2 separate regions of the Homo sapiens genome follow, and region 2 is reported to be linked to region 1. The links are microRNA targets in miRTarBase. Many come from high-throughput screens and were not tested one by one. Region 1 holds a microRNA gene; the other region holds the end of a gene's coding sequence.
What was found. The annotated mature microRNA hsa-miR-1323 reads UCAAAACUGAGGGGCAUUUUCU and lies in region 1 at 1,295-1,316, shown strand. An mRNA with a match to its seed (bases 2 to 7 or 8) in the 3' UTR can be bound and repressed. Matches are read on the target gene's strand: a 7mer-m8 pairs with bases 2 to 8, a 7mer-A1 pairs with bases 2 to 7 and ends in A, and an 8mer does both.

Region 2: miRTarBase lists CDH1 as a target of hsa-miR-1323. Seed matches in the 3' UTR shown: 8mer at 2,632-2,639.

The regions. Positions count from the first base shown.
Region 1 is chr19:53,670,684-53,675,072 of GRCh38, forward strand. MIR1323 (microRNA 1323) reads left to right here and starts at 1,285; the gene lies at 1,285-1,357. It overlaps MIR498 (microRNA 498), which reads left to right and starts at 3,514; the gene lies at 3,514-3,637. The region is part of intron 2 of LOC107985342 (a long non-coding RNA gene); the gene reads left to right.
Region 2 is chr16:68,832,772-68,837,160 of GRCh38, forward strand. CDH1 (cadherin 1) reads left to right here. Exons shown (of 16, transcript NM_004360.5): 16 at 519-2,766. The coding sequence ends at 728. Among named protein-coding and RNA genes, the nearest start is that of TANGO6, 8.6 kb to the right of the region's middle.

The DNA of each region.
Region 1 (4,389 bases):
GTGGGACCCAGGCATTTTCAGTGCTGAGGTGAGTCCTTGATTGTAACTGATGGGGACTGGTATCTTAACTCCAGGTTACTGAAGACTAGGAATTTCTTGCCTTACAGTAAAATTGCAAAGAAGAGTAGCATAAGAGGTAGATCAGAAGACTGCAGAATAGATTAACAAATGAATGCCCAAATGAGGATGCTAAACTTGGATTTGCATCAAGAAGACAGATATTGGTCGGGCGTGGTGGCTCACGCCTGTAATCCCAGCACTTTGGGAGGCTGAGGCGGGTGGATCATCCTGGCTAACACGGTGAAACCCCGTCTCTACTAAAAAAATACAAAAAAATTAGCCGGGCGTGGTGGCAGGCGCCTGTAGTCCCAGCTGCTGGGGAGGCTGAGGCAGGAGAATGGCATGAACCCAGGAGGCGGAGCTTGTAGTGAGCCGAGATCGTGCCACTGCACTTCACCCTGGGCGACAGAGCGAGACTCTGTCTCAAAAAAAAAAAGGACAGGTATTAGGATAGTTTTGAAGCCCACTTGCTCCTATCATGGCATTGAAGCATCAGTTTGCTGCCAATCACTCCTTCTTCTGTGTTCATAGACAGGACTGTGGAAATGTACACTTGGATTCTTTCACAGGTAATGCTGAGAAATTTAAAACCAAAAACGGCCGGGTGCCGTGGCTCCTGCCTGTAATTCTAGCACTTTGGGAGGCTGAGGCGGGCGGATCACAAGGTCAGGAGTTCGAGAGCAGCCTGGCCAATATGGTGAAACCCCATCTCCACTAAAAATACAAAAATTAGCCTGGCATAGTGGCGGGCCCCTGAAGTCCCAGCTACTCAGGAGACTGAGTAGACGAGGAGAATGGCTTGAACATGGGGTGCAGAGGTTGCAGTGAGCTGAGATCGCACCGCTGCACTCCAGCCTGGGCAACAAGAGTGAAACTCTGTCTCAAAAAAAAAAAAAAATTTGAAATTAAAGTGTATGATTAGAGTGCATGATTGGTTCTGACTGGATGTGTAACATGTGCATAGCCTTCTCATAAATCAAAGGTTTTTATGTGAAACCTACCACTAGTGATGTAACTGAATTTGTGTAAATGCTGGTGTGTCTGCCTTTTCCTAGCAACTCCCTGGGCAGCCTGAGGATTCTTTGAGGTTATTTTTTTTCAAGATCTGGCTGGGAGCTTCTGCATGAGTGCTGTGTGAACGTCCTCCATCTGCAGTGTGAGGACAGCGAACCCTAGTGTGAGTTAACCACGTAGGAAGAGTTTGAAGTCAGACATGACATTCAGACTGAGGTCCTCAAAACTGAGGGGCATTTTCTGTGGTTTGAAAGGAAAGTGCACCCAGTTTTGGGGATGTCAATTGTGAATCCTCATCATAACCCATCCCCAGTCCCCCATCGCATTGCACCACATGGATGCACCCAGTGGACTGGCCTTTGCTTTTCTATTGTTTCTTTTTCTCTCCACTGCAATCAGCTTTCTCACGTTGAATGCATTCCATTTTCTAAGCGCTCTCCTAGGCAAAAATCCCTCTAATGCAAAGCAAAAATGTCTGTTATGCAACATTGTTCTGAGACCCCAGGAATTGCAGTTAACTTGGCTCCTTAGTATGTGCTTCCTAAGGCGGGTGGGGTGGCTCGCGCCTGTAGTCCCAGCACTTTGGGAGGCAGGCGAGGCACTTGAAACCCTGTCTCTACTAAAAATACAAAAATTAGCTGGACATGGTGGCATGTGCCTGTAATCCCAGCTACTTGGGAGGTGCAGACAGGAGCATCGCTTGAACCCAGGAGGCAGAGGTTGCAGTGAGCCAAGATAATGGCACTGTACTGCAACCTGGGTGACAGAGCGAGACTCAAAAAAAAAAAAAAGTGCTTCCTGTGAAGGTTTCCTTTCCCTTCTGCCCCCCATACCAGTCCATCTATTTAGTAGATGTCCTGGTTTCTACCCAGGATATCATGGACCAGGGGTTCTGTCTTCCAGCCTTGAGTACAATGGTGCGACTATAGCTCACTGCAGTCTCAACCTCCTGGGCTCAAGTGATCATCCTGCCTCAGCCTCCAAGTAGCTGGTATTACAGATGCACGTGCCCCCATTCCCAGAGGTTCTTAAATTTATGACAAAAACCCAGAAGCTTGGCTGAAGCAGCTTGTTGGGGCCCACCCACAGATTTTGTTTGGTGCCATAGACCTGGGTTGGGATCTGGGGAGCCATTTTTCTTAGTCTCAATGTAAATGTCTAAGCATTTTCTTTTTTTCTTTCTTTTTTTTTTTTTGAGACAGGGTTTCGCTCTTGTTGCCTAAACTGGAGTGCAGTGGCACAATCTCGGCTCACTGCAACCTCTGCCTCCTGGGTTCAAGTGATTCTCCTGCCTCAGCCTCCCAAGTAGCTGGGATTACAGGTGTGCACCACCATGCCCGGCTAATTTTTTTTTATTTTTTTATTTTTTTTATTTTTTGAGATGGAGTCTTGCTCTGTTGCCCAGGCTGGAGTGCAGTGGTGTGATCTCGGATCACTGCAAGCTCCGCCTCCTTGATTCATGCCATTCTCCTGCCTCAGCCTCCCGACTAGCTGGGACTACAGGTGCCCGCCACCACGCCCAGCTAATTTTTTTGTATTTTTAGTAGAGACGGGGTTTCACTGTGTTAGCCAGGGTGGTCTCGGTCTCCTGATCTCGTGATCTGCCTGCCTCGGCCTCCCAAAGTGCTGGGATTACAGGCTTGAGTCACTGCCCCTGGCCAATTTTTTGTATTTTTAGTAGAAATGGAGTTTCACCATGTTTCCTGCCTATCTCTCTATGTATTTAGACAGGGTCTCACTATGTTGCCCAGGTTGGTCTCAAACTCCTGGACTCAAGCAATCCTCCTGCCTCCACCTTCCAAAGTGCTGGGACTACAGGCTTGAGCCATCCTGCCTGACCATTTGAGAGTTTTTTTTTTTTGAGATGGAGTCTCTCTCTGTCACCCATGCTGTAGTGCAGTAGTGTGATCTTGCCTCACTGCGACCTCTGCCTCCCGGGTTCAAGCAATTCTCCTGCCTCAGCATCCCCAGTAGCTGGGATTACAGGCGCCCGCCACTACACCCAGCTAATTTTTGTATTTTTAGTAGAGACAGGGTTTCACCATGTTGGCCAGGCTGGTCTCGAACTCCTGACCTCAGGTGGTCTGCCCACCTCCGCCTCGCAAAGTGCTGGGATAAGAGGCGTGAGCCACCGTGCCTGTCTTCAACAATGATTTCTAATTGCATTTTATGGTGGTGATTGAACATAATGTACTTTGGTCCTTCTCCATTGTATGCCTCGTGTATTATGTGTCTCATAACGTCTGTCCCGTCCTATGCTATGTGTGCATTTGAATGTTGGGGAGGGTTCAGTAGATGTCCATTGAGTTGGTTTGCAAACTTATTTGAAACTTCTACTTACTTCTGCCTAATTCTGCTTATTATTGAGAGTGGACTGCTCTGGGATGCCTTTTGTTTGCACTCTGATTTCAGATGGACCCTGAGAATGCTCAAGCCCCAAACCCTCCTTGGGAAGTGAAGCTCAGGCTGTGATTTCAAGCCAGGGGGCGTTTTTCTATAACTGGATGAAAAGCACCTCCAGAGCTTGAAGCTCACAGTTTGAGAGCAATCGTCTAAGGAAGTTGATGGCAATGTTAATAGTTTTTTAAACAAGCATGAAATCAGATTCCTGTGTTTACTTCTGGATGCTGTTGATCCAGGAAATGTACTTAGAAAATTCATTTTAACGGAAATAGTCATAAGCGTCTTGGTAATTTCATGAAGCTACAGTGAGTAAATTGCCTGAGAATTTCCCTGCCTGAAAGGTCTTCAGGAGTGTAATTTTTTTTTAATATAGCTTATTTAATACAAATAGAGATGCGGTCTCACTCTTGCCTAGACTGGTGTGCAGTGTCATGTTCACAGCTCACTGCAGCCTCTCAACCTCCGGGGCTCAAGCATCCTCCTGCCTCAGCCTCCCAAAGTGCTGGAATTACAGGTGTCAGCCACCACTCCCTACTCATACTTGTATATTTCTCTTTAAATTCTGTTGAGGTTTTATGGCCTAGCCTGTGGTCTATCCTGGAGAATATTTGTGTGCATGACAATGTGTATATATATATATATATATATATTTTTTTTTTTTTTTCTTTTTTTTGAGATGGAGTTTCACTCTTGTTGCCCTAGCTGGAGTACAGTGGCATGAATCTCAGCTCACTGCAACCTCCGCCTCCCGGGTTCAAGCGATTTTCCTGCCTCAGCCTCCCGAGTAGCCGGGATTACCCTCCACCACACCCGGCTAATTTTTGTATTTTTAGTAGAGGTGGGGTTTCGCCATATTGACCAAGGTGGTCTTGAACTCCTGACCTCAGGAGTCCCGCCTCGGCCTCTCAAAGT
Region 2 (4,389 bases), not on the chromosome of region 1:
ATCACACCATTGCACTCCAGCCTGTGTGACAAGAGTGAAACCCTGTCTCTAAAAAAAAAGAAAAAGAAAAAAAATACAAGTCCTTCCTTAGTTCCCACACCCCCACTCCCCAGATTTAACTGTTAAGCATTTGGCATTTATCCTTCCAGGCCTTTCTGGGTGGAAATGCAGCCTGCATGCACCAGTATGCAAAGCTTCCAGCTCTGCCCATCCCAGCTGGTGGTGTGGCAGCCCCACTCTGATCTATGGGGACTCCATCCTGACTGGTTGGTGCTTGCATCTCTCCTGCCTACATATAACTCACCATTTCACTTTCTCTTTCCATCAACAACATATCCTGTGCTTCTGCATCCTTCCATGACAGTGTGTATAAATGTACGTTGTTGGTGTTCACTGCTCCGTGGTGTGCCACAAGTCTGGGTGCATTGTCGTACCTTACATATTGCTAGACTTCTTGCCCCAGATGACAGGTGTGCCCTTCCTTTCACTAAAAGATGCTTTTGTCCCTTCTTCTTTAGAATCTGAAAGCGGCTGATACTGACCCCACAGCCCCGCCTTATGATTCTCTGCTCGTGTTTGACTATGAAGGAAGCGGTTCCGAAGCTGCTAGTCTGAGCTCCCTGAACTCCTCAGAGTCAGACAAAGACCAGGACTATGACTACTTGAACGAATGGGGCAATCGCTTCAAGAAGCTGGCTGACATGTACGGAGGCGGCGAGGACGACTAGGGGACTCGAGAGAGGCGGGCCCCAGACCCATGTGCTGGGAAATGCAGAAATCACGTTGCTGGTGGTTTTTCAGCTCCCTTCCCTTGAGATGAGTTTCTGGGGAAAAAAAAGAGACTGGTTAGTGATGCAGTTAGTATAGCTTTATACTCTCTCCACTTTATAGCTCTAATAAGTTTGTGTTAGAAAAGTTTCGACTTATTTCTTAAAGCTTTTTTTTTTTTCCCATCACTCTTTACATGGTGGTGATGTCCAAAAGATACCCAAATTTTAATATTCCAGAAGAACAACTTTAGCATCAGAAGGTTCACCCAGCACCTTGCAGATTTTCTTAAGGAATTTTGTCTCACTTTTAAAAAGAAGGGGAGAAGTCAGCTACTCTAGTTCTGTTGTTTTGTGTATATAATTTTTTAAAAAAAATTTGTGTGCTTCTGCTCATTACTACACTGGTGTGTCCCTCTGCCTTTTTTTTTTTTTTAAGACAGGGTCTCATTCTATCGGCCAGGCTGGAGTGCAGTGGTGCAATCACAGCTCACTGCAGCCTTGTCCTCCCAGGCTCAAGCTATCCTTGCACCTCAGCCTCCCAAGTAGCTGGGACCACAGGCATGCACCACTACGCATGACTAATTTTTTAAATATTTGAGACGGGGTCTCCCTGTGTTACCCAGGCTGGTCTCAAACTCCTGGGCTCAAGTGATCCTCCCATCTTGGCCTCCCAGAGTATTGGGATTACAGACATGAGCCACTGCACCTGCCCAGCTCCCCAACTCCCTGCCATTTTTTAAGAGACAGTTTCGCTCCATCGCCCAGGCCTGGGATGCAGTGATGTGATCATAGCTCACTGTAACCTCAAACTCTGGGGCTCAAGCAGTTCTCCCACCAGCCTCCTTTTTATTTTTTTGTACAGATGGGGTCTTGCTATGTTGCCCAAGCTGGTCTTAAACTCCTGGCCTCAAGCAATCCTTCTGCCTTGGCCCCCCAAAGTGCTGGGATTGTGGGCATGAGCTGCTGTGCCCAGCCTCCATGTTTTAATATCAACTCTCACTCCTGAATTCAGTTGCTTTGCCCAAGATAGGAGTTCTCTGATGCAGAAATTATTGGGCTCTTTTAGGGTAAGAAGTTTGTGTCTTTGTCTGGCCACATCTTGACTAGGTATTGTCTACTCTGAAGACCTTTAATGGCTTCCCTCTTTCATCTCCTGAGTATGTAACTTGCAATGGGCAGCTATCCAGTGACTTGTTCTGAGTAAGTGTGTTCATTAATGTTTATTTAGCTCTGAAGCAAGAGTGATATACTCCAGGACTTAGAATAGTGCCTAAAGTGCTGCAGCCAAAGACAGAGCGGAACTATGAAAAGTGGGCTTGGAGATGGCAGGAGAGCTTGTCATTGAGCCTGGCAATTTAGCAAACTGATGCTGAGGATGATTGAGGTGGGTCTACCTCATCTCTGAAAATTCTGGAAGGAATGGAGGAGTCTCAACATGTGTTTCTGACACAAGATCCGTGGTTTGTACTCAAAGCCCAGAATCCCCAAGTGCCTGCTTTTGATGATGTCTACAGAAAATGCTGGCTGAGCTGAACACATTTGCCCAATTCCAGGTGTGCACAGAAAACCGAGAATATTCAAAATTCCAAATTTTTTTCTTAGGAGCAAGAAGAAAATGTGGCCCTAAAGGGGGTTAGTTGAGGGGTAGGGGGTAGTGAGGATCTTGATTTGGATCTCTTTTTATTTAAATGTGAATTTCAACTTTTGACAATCAAAGAAAAGACTTTTGTTGAAATAGCTTTACTGTTTCTCAAGTGTTTTGGAGAAAAAAATCAACCCTGCAATCACTTTTTGGAATTGTCTTGATTTTTCGGCAGTTCAAGCTATATCGAATATAGTTCTGTGTAGAGAATGTCACTGTAGTTTTGAGTGTATACATGTGTGGGTGCTGATAATTGTGTATTTTCTTTGGGGGTGGAAAAGGAAAACAATTCAAGCTGAGAAAAGTATTCTCAAAGATGCATTTTTATAAATTTTATTAAACAATTTTGTTAAACCATTGTCAAATTTGTTTTATTTGATTCCACCACATTTCCAGTCAAGAGAAAAGATGCATGGAGATGGCCTCAGTCAAAACGTGGAGAAAGAGGCCGGGCGCGGTGGCTCATGCCTGTAATCTCAGCACTTCGGGAGGCCGAGGCAGGTAGATCACTTGAGCTCAGGAGTTTGAGACCAGCCTGGGCAACGTAGTGAAACCCTGTCTCCACAAAAACACAAAAATTAGCTGGGCGTGGTGGCGCGCGCCTGTAGTCCCAGCTACTCGAGAGGCTGAGACATGAGAATCACTTGAACTCAGGAGGCAGAGGTTGCAGTGAGCCGAGGTTGCGCCACTGCACTTCAGCCTAGGTGACAGAGGAGACTCCATCTCAAAAAAATAAAAAAATTTTTAAAAAACTTCATGCTGAAGTGACTTCTCCAGAAGTTTCTATCATTCTACTGGATGAACATGGGAGAAACTACATTCACATGGTAACTTTATTTGAACAGTATCCATCCATGTGGCATGTGATGAAACCAATAAAATTCCCATGTCCACGGGAGACTGTGTGGGCCAAGCTGAAGGACGGGACAGAGCAAAGTTTCAAACGATGTTCTCGGGGTCAGCAAGTGAGTACAGGCCAGTGGTTCTCTGCTGGGGAAGAATGTAGCCCCCTCCTCCATGTGACATTTTGCAATTTCTGGAGTACCTGGGGAGGTGGTCTTGTCACCACATCAAGGCCAGGGGTGCTGCTAAACATCCCTGCACGGGACAGTTCCTCACAACAAAGAATTATCCAGCACAAAATGTCAGCCACTGTTAAGAAACCCTGGTGTAAGCCTAAAACTTTTCTCTGTTGAAGGGGTATGACTTTTTTCTTTGGGTAATTTTTTATTGTAAAATACAACATAAAATTTATGATTTTAGCCCTTTTGTTAAGTTTTCAGACAGGGTCTCACTCTGTCACCCGGGCTGGAGTGCAGTGGCACAATCACGGCTCGCTGCAGCCTCAATCTCCCAGTCACAAATGATCCTCCTCTCTCAGCCTCCCTAGTAGCTGGGACTACAGGTGTTGCACCACTACGCCCAGCTAATTTTAAAAATTGTTTTGTAGAGACAGGGATCTTGCTATGATGCACAGGCTGGTCTTGAACTCCTGGGCTCAAGTGATCTGCCCTCCTTGGCCTCCCAAAGTACTGGGATTACAGGAGTGAGCCACCACGTTGGCCTCATTGTAGCCATTTTTAAGTATACAGTTCAATGACATTAAGTATATTCAAATTGTGTTGCAACCATCACCACTATCTTCAGAACTTTTTCATCATCCCAGACAAACTCTGTACCCATTTATTTTCAACTGTTTTTAAGTGTACAATTCAGTGGTATTAAGTACATTCAAAATATTGTATAACCATCAGCTCTGGTGTTAGAACTTTTTCATCATTCCAAATAAATTTTGTATCTAGTGGGCAATAACTCTCCATTCCTGCCTCTACCCATCCCCTCCTAATCACTATTCTACTTTCCATGTATGTAGACTCCTTTAATCATCCTTTTGCATCTGGCTTTTTTTTTTTTTTTTTTTTTTTGAGACGGAGTCTTGCTCTGTCGCCCAGGCTGGAATGCAGTGGCGCGATCTCC